Linked DNA regions of Homo sapiens. The protein of the gene in region 1 interacts with the protein of each later gene in a biochemical or structural test. Each region holds a gene or a part of one and is shown on either strand. Other genes may lie near its edges.

Region 1 (3,500 bases):
ACAGATACGTAATTCACCTCTGGGACCTCAACCACGAAGGGACGTGGGAAGGAAAGGGGACGTATGTCTATTACACAGACTTTGTCATGGAGCTCACTCTCCTGTCCCTGGACCTCATGCACCATATTCACATGTTGGTAAGTTTCCTCAGAAGGAGCTCTAACAGAGGGCAAGCCTTTCAGAATCAGGAACAGTAATGGTTTCTTCATTAAAAAATGAAACTTTAGAAATAAGATGTGGATGGACTACTTAAAGACTAAAAATGAATGTGGCTGCAAACCCTCCCTCTTTTTGCCACTGGGTGTAAGGCAGTGCCATGGAACTGCTTTGGCTGGTGCCTAACTCAGGAGGTGTTTGCTGTCCTGGGAGACTTAGTTAACTCTGCTGACCAAGTCAATAGATTATTCTTTTAGCATGAAATTAAGGAGCTGCCTTTCCCCATAGTTTCTATGGCTTTAAATATTTAGCAGGTACTTTGTAGGTGGTAATGGGAATTCCTGCAGTGTTAGCTACTTCACAGATTTATACATTTTCCATCTTTGTAATTAAAAAAAGTCTTTACACTTAATTCCTACATTCCTACTACCATCATTGTTTACATTTTACTTTGGTATGTTAGACGTTACGGTGTCGTAGATCTGCTTCATTGGTTGGCCCTTCAGTGATCTAATAATGGTGAGAATTAAAATAGTTGGTGGGCAATTTATTTAAATTATAAGCCTAGCAAGTAGCATTTTAAAATTATTGGGCTAGACGTGGCACATTTCTAAGTCTACTTTTTGAAAGAAACTTTGAAAACATACTTTTTAAAGAAAGTATGTAATTCTTTTTTTTAAAAAAGAGCCTCGGCTGGACGCGGTGGCTCATGCCTGTAATCCCAGCTACTGGGGAGGCTGAGGCAGAGAATTGCTTGAACCTGGGAAATGGAGGTTGCAGTGAGCTGAGATCGCGCCACTGTACTCTATCCTGGGCGACAGGGTGACACTCCGTCCCAAAAAAAAAAAAAAAGCCTCCCTCCCCCCTCAAAAAGGGGACAAACAAATGGCCAAAGATAACTGTTAAGATTTTTTATCTTCTTTTTTTAAATTTTTTTTCCTCATGCTTGTATTTTTTGTATTTAACTGCTTCTTTTTATGTATTTTTTGTATTTATGTATTTTGTATTTTTATGTATTTTGTATTTAACTGATTCTTTTTATGTATTTGAGTACATACATTCATAAATTGAGATCATATTTTAGACATATAGTTCTGTTCTTTAAAAACTAATGTATTATGAACATTTTCCTGTGCTAACATCAGTTCTTCTAAGCCATTTTAATACTTTCAGGATAAAAATATCATCAGATAGCTGTACCATGATTTAATAAACCGCATCCCACAATGGGTTATTTAGATTATATTTGGTTGTTTGCTATTTCACATTTTACATATTTTTTATCATGTATTAGTTTGATAAAGATAGTTATATCTTGCTTTTTTCATTTATCTAGTACTATCTTCCCATAATTGACCTTCAGAACTGTTATATATACAAATATAATAGTAATATGTAGTTATATAGTATAATAAGTGAAATTAATGACTATATAATTTTACATTACATGAGTTTACAACCTAACTGTTCTTCTGGGCATTTTGTTCATTTTCATATTTTCTGTTTTATAATTGCATGGATAGACATCTTTTTGCATAAAGCTTTTCCATTTCTGATGAGTTTCTCAGGAAAGATGACTGGCATTGGAGCACCTAGGCTGACGAGGATGTGCATTGTTTAGAGTAATGAGATAAATCTGTGTATTTCCTTTCTGAAAGACATTGCAGTTCACCATCACCAACAGTGAAGAGCTTCCGCTGCATACTGCGCCTTCATCACTAGCAAGTTCACGTTCGCTTTTACCGTGTGTTTTATTCTCTTTCTCTCTAAGTTATTTGGCAACATCTGGTTATCCATGGCCAGCCTGGTCATCTTTATGCAGCTGCGTTACCTGTTTCATGAGGTGCAACGTCGAATTCGTCGGCACAAGAACTATCTACGTGTGGTTGGAAACATGGAGGCCAGGTAAGGAAGCACAAGTTGATGTTGCCTAAGTTTACTCATTTTAGTTTTTTAATAACAGCAGATCCCAGAGTATGTCAGAATGTATGTTTGTAAACTGCTAATAGAGTGGTGGAGAGGAAAGGCTCTGGAGTCAGACTGCCCGGGTGTGAATCCCCACTTAGGTGCTGTGTGATTTGGGGCAATTTACTTCACCTCTAAATTAGGGATGAAAACAGAACCTTCTGCCTGAACTATTGGGAGAATTTGGTGAGATAATTCATGTACTTAGAATGGTACTGGGCAGATAGTGCTCAGTATTAGGCTCTTATTTGTCATGATTTTATTGTCATTATTATCAAATAGACACTTCATTGGGCTTCTACCCTGTTCATTTCCTGAAAGTGGGTCTCAGTTCTTTGCACATGCATGTTTACACACACATACTTAACCTCATTGAAGGAGGCACTTTTTTGCCAAGCTGGGGCTAAGCCACGCCTGGAGGTGCAAGATTAATGGGTATCCTCTTTGCACCCAGGGGGACAGCTTGGATCTCTTCTTTGTGGCCAGGGACACAGATTGGATCTCTGGGGGCCTTACTCCTCTGATTTGTCCGGATATGGTCTCCGAGGTCTTCACTAACAGCAGCCATTATTATTATTATTATTATTATTTTGGAGATGGAGTCTCACTCACCCAGGCTGGAGTGCAGTGGCACAATCTCAGCTCACTGCAACCTCCGCCTCCCAGGTTGAAGTAAGTCTCCTGCCTCAGCCTCCTGAGTAGCTGGGATTGCAGGCGCCTGTCACCACGCCCGGCTAATTTTTGCATTTTTAGTAGAGACGGGGTTTCACCATGTTGGTTAGGCTGGTCTTGAACTCCTGACCTCATGATCCCCCTACCTCGGCCTCCGAAAGTGCTGGGATTACAGGTATAAGCCACCGCGCTCGGCCTAGCAACCATTATTTAGACAAAGTTCCTGTGCATAAGTTACTCACTTTTGAAAGGGCTTTGAAGGTAAATTATATTTTTGATTATCAAGAATGTTTTGCTGAACATGCTTTCTCTGTAACTGTGTTGTGATACAGGCGCAGTCTATCAAGTGGTGTTTAGTGTGCGTGTGGAACTGACTGAGGTTCCTGCTGGGCTTGTTTTGTTTCCACAGGTTTGCAGTTGCAACTCCAGAGGAGCTGGCTGTCAACAATGACGACTGTGCCATCTGTTGGGACTCCATGCAGGCTGCGCGGAAACTGCCCTGTGGACATCTTTTCCACAAGTAGGAGCTTTGTGAAGGGCCATGTGGGACAGGTGTTCTGTCCAGGGCGTGTGTGTGCTTTGTGTACCCAGGCTCGAGACTCATCCTAGTGGAGGAGTGGGGACATTACCTCAGCCTGGCCTTGCTGCTGGCACTGAGTGTTCTGGGAAGCTCTTGGGTATCCTTCTTTGTTCCTTAGCCTCTTCCC
Region 2 (3,980 bases), on another chromosome or scaffold:
AGACTGCTCCATTGCACTCCAGCCTGGGCGACAGAGCAAGACTGTCTCAAAAAAAAGGAAGGAAATTCAGGCACATGGTACAACATGGATGAACCTTGAGGACTTTACGCTAAATGAAATAAGAAATAAGCCAGACAAAAAAGGACAAATATTGTATGATTCCACTTAGGTACAGAGTAGTCAAATTCAGAGAAAGAAAATAGAATGGTGATGGCTGGGGTGGGGAGTTGTTTAATGAGTACAGAGTTGTAGTTCTGTAGGATGAAGAGAGTTCTATGGATGGTGGTGATGGCAGCAAAACAGTATGAATATACTTAATGCCACTGAACATTTAAAATGAGTTAAGATGGTGAATTTTATGTTAGGTATTATTTTACCACAAAATTTTTAAAAAATTAACAAGGTATCCCAAGAAAAATTACTGCAGAACATAGGAGGGGATAGTAAATGTCCAAAAGACTCCCTAAGTACTATGATGTAGTAATTCAAAACCTCACTAAAGAAGGAACCATTAAAGCAGCATCCTCAATTTGCACTTATATTTCTACTTGTAATCCTCCACAGTTGATAAAATTAGAAATGTATCTGAAAACTTCTGATTTATACTGGAGTCAGAAAATAGTATAATTCAAAATGAGTTTTTAAAATTCTTACAAATTAACAATAAAAACAAACATACCAACAGAAAAAATGGGCAAAGGGCTGAATATGCAATTCAAAAAGGAAATCCATGTGGTCAATAAACGTGAGAATGTTTGCTCTCACAATAATCAAAGGAAAGTATATTAGAAACTGAGATCCCGGCAGGTGTGGTGGCTCATGCCTGTAATCCCAGCACTTTGGGAGGCCGAGGAGGGTGGATCACCTGAGGTCAGGAGTTCAAGACCAGCCTGACCAACATGGCAAAACCCTATCTCTACTAAAAATACAAAATTAGCCGGGTGTGGTGGCGCATGCCTATGATCCCAGCTACTAGGGAGGCTGACGCAGGAGAATCGCTTGAACCCAGGAGGCGGAGGTTGCAGTGAGCCGAGATTGAGCCACTGCACTCAAGCCTGGGTGACAGAGCAAGAATCCGTTTCAAAAAACAGCAACGACAACAAAAACAAAACTGAGATCCCTTCTACTGCCCAAACATTAGCAGGATGGGGGTGGGGGCACAGCCTGGTATAGGGAGTCAAGAGCCCCATCAGACCATGCACACATGGAGGTGGCCTGACGAGATGTTAGCCCGAGTAGGATGGGGAGGCATCCCTGTAAGAGGGCAGCCTGGTCTGGGGAATCTGAGGGTGAGTGAGATAAGCAAGGCATCCATATGGGAGAGGTGGAGACTATCCCGAAAGACTGGTTACATATGAGGGGTAATTAGGTAGGTAAAACATTAATCATAATAAGAATCAGGTTAGGACAGATGGAAAGGGCAGATGGAAAGGAGTGGTACATTCATACAACCAAATAATATTCAGCAATAAAAAGGAACAAATTACCAATAAATACAAGAACACAGATGAGTCTCAAAAACATTATGTTGAATGAAAGAAGCCTTATACCAAAGAGTACATGCATACTGTACAATTCTACTCATGAAGTTGTAGAACATGAAAAACTAATCTACAGAGGAACAAAACCAGAATAGCAATTGCTTCTTGGGGGACAGGTACAATGATTGACAGGGAAGGACATCAGGGAACTTTCTGGTTGATGGTAATTTTCTGTCTTGATAGATACACAGATGTGTGCATTTATAAAAACTCAGTTGACACACTCAAGATTTGTGTATTTTGTTGCACATAAATACTAAACTCTAGTTACTGATATGCACACTCAAGTATACAAGGAATTAAGTATACATATAATGGCACATACATTTTGGATTGGAAAGCTAGATGTAGGGATAGGTGTGCAATAAGAATAGGGAACTATTAATTACAGAATCTATGTGGTGGCTACATGAAGCTCACTCCAATTTTTTTCTGATTTCCTATAAGTTTGTTAATTTTCATAATAAAATATTGGAGGAAACCAATAGGAAAAAAGCTAGAATGAACCATGAGGTAGTACTAGAAATGGGAGTATAGTATAAACCCATGTTTTAAAAAATACATAGATCTAAAAATATACACATGTATACATTATCATACATACATACATATAATTCCATTGCTCTGTTCACTGAGAGGATCTGGGAATAGCAACACTCCAATAGCAATGAGCACATCTAGCACCCAGATCTTGGCTTCTAAATACCATTCTCCACTTTAAAGGAACCAGGGCTCCTTGAAGAAACAGCTGATTCTAGGACTGGATCAAGGAGAGCACAGGATGAGCCTGGTATATCTTGTTGTGCCAGAAAACAATTGCAAAAAAATAAAAAAATAAAAAGTGGGGTGTAGTGGCTCACACCTGTAATCTCAGTGCTTTGGGAGGCCAAGAGACAAGAGGATCACCTGAGGACTGGAGTTCGAGACTAGCCTGGGCAACATAGAGAGACCTTGTCTCCACAAAAAAAAACATTTAAGAAAGAAAATAAGCAGAGCTTGGTGGTGTGCACCTGTAGTCCCAGCTACTCAGGAGGCTGAGGTGGGAGGATCACTTGAGCCCAGGGGCTTGAGTTAACAGTGTGCTATGATCATACCACTGCACTCCAGCCTGGGCAATGGAGTGAGACCTGTACTGCATATGTAATTTCTTGTAGGACTGAAATTGTTTCAAAACATTTTTTAAAAATCATAAACAATGAGACATCATCCTACAACTATTCAACTAGGAAAGGGTAAATAAAATGCCTTCCTTGTTTGATTAGGATGTGGGGAAATGAACAGTTATAAATGCTAGTTGAAATGTAAACCTGAACATCCATTCTGGAAGGCGTTTGGCAACAAAATAGGAATTCTACTTCTAGGAATTATCTTTTGAAAATAATCATGGATGTGTGCAGAGATTTAGCTACAAGGACATTCACCACTCCAATTACAGAAGAGAAAACCAAGCACTAACGTCAATGTCCATCAACAAGGGATTAGTATAATTACACCATATCCATACCATGGAATATCACCTGTTATAATTTTATAACACTTCAGGGTGGAAAAAACAATTATGGCATACTAAGTTTACAAGGTTACAAAAATTGTTTTTTGAGACAGGGTGCCACTCTGTCCCCCAGCCCGAAGTGCAGTGGTGCGATCTCGGCTCACTGCAGTCTCAACCCTCTGGGCTCAAGCAATCCTTCCACCTCAACCTCTCGAGTAGCTGGGATTACAAGTACATGCCACCATATGCAGCTGATTTTGGGATTTTTTGTAGAGATGGGGTTTTGCCATGTTGCCCAGGCTGGTGTCAAACTCCTGAGTTCAAGTGATCCGTCTGCCTTCACCTCTCAAAGTGCTGGGATTACAGGAATGTGTTATGTTGTCCAGGCTGGAATGCAGTGGCTATGTTAAAGGCCTAGCCCAAGAAGAGCAGTGGCTGTTCACAGGCGCAATCATAGTGTATGCAGCCTTGCCTGGCTCAGCGTTTTTTAAAAAGTACACAAAGACTGAAGAATACACATTGAAAAGTTAACAATGGTGGCCACTGCTATACCCAAGTGTCGGGATAGTGGACAATTTCACTTTCTTCTTTTTTGCTTACTATTCTACAACAAACATTTTATAACAAAAACTCACATTTTACTTCTCAATTGAGCCCTTTTTAATATGGCATCTCCCAAGGATACCAAATTCCAGAGTAGAAAGAGGTCTCATAAATCAAAGTTCTACTGCACTCCAGCCTAGGTAACAGAGTGAGACTCCATGTAAAAAAAAAAAAAAAAAAAAAAAAAAAAAAGAAAGAAAGAAATCAAAGTTCTATCTCAGGAAACTGAAGTGCAAAAAAGAAAGGACTTGCTCTATGGCTGGTCAGTGGGACAGCTACACCTGGTTTCCAGTCCAAAGCTATTTCCACTCTGCTTCACTGCTTATCTCAACCACCTGCTTGGC

Evidence for each region. The genes of interacting proteins can lie anywhere in the genome.
Region 2: the proteins of AMFR (region 1) and DERL2 form a complex in vitro, tested with the Homo sapiens proteins (one study listed by BioGRID).

Annotation. Positions count from the first base shown.
Region 1 is NC_000016.10:56,401,546-56,405,045, reverse strand, and holds part of AMFR (E3 ubiquitin-protein ligase AMFR), read left to right. Parts: intron 1-4; coding exon 5-137; intron 138-1,927; coding exon 1,928-2,061; intron 2,062-3,202; coding exon 3,203-3,313; intron 3,314-3,500. UniProt on the Homo sapiens protein: E3 ubiquitin-protein ligase that mediates the polyubiquitination of lysine and cysteine residues on target proteins, such as CD3D, CYP3A4, CFTR, INSIG1, SOAT2/ACAT2 and APOB for proteasomal degradation.
Region 2 is NC_000017.11:5,475,699-5,479,678, forward strand, and holds part of DERL2 (derlin-2), read right to left. Parts: intron 2,302-3,980; coding exon of another isoform or gene 2,259-2,301; exon of another isoform or gene 2,151-2,258; intron 1-2,150.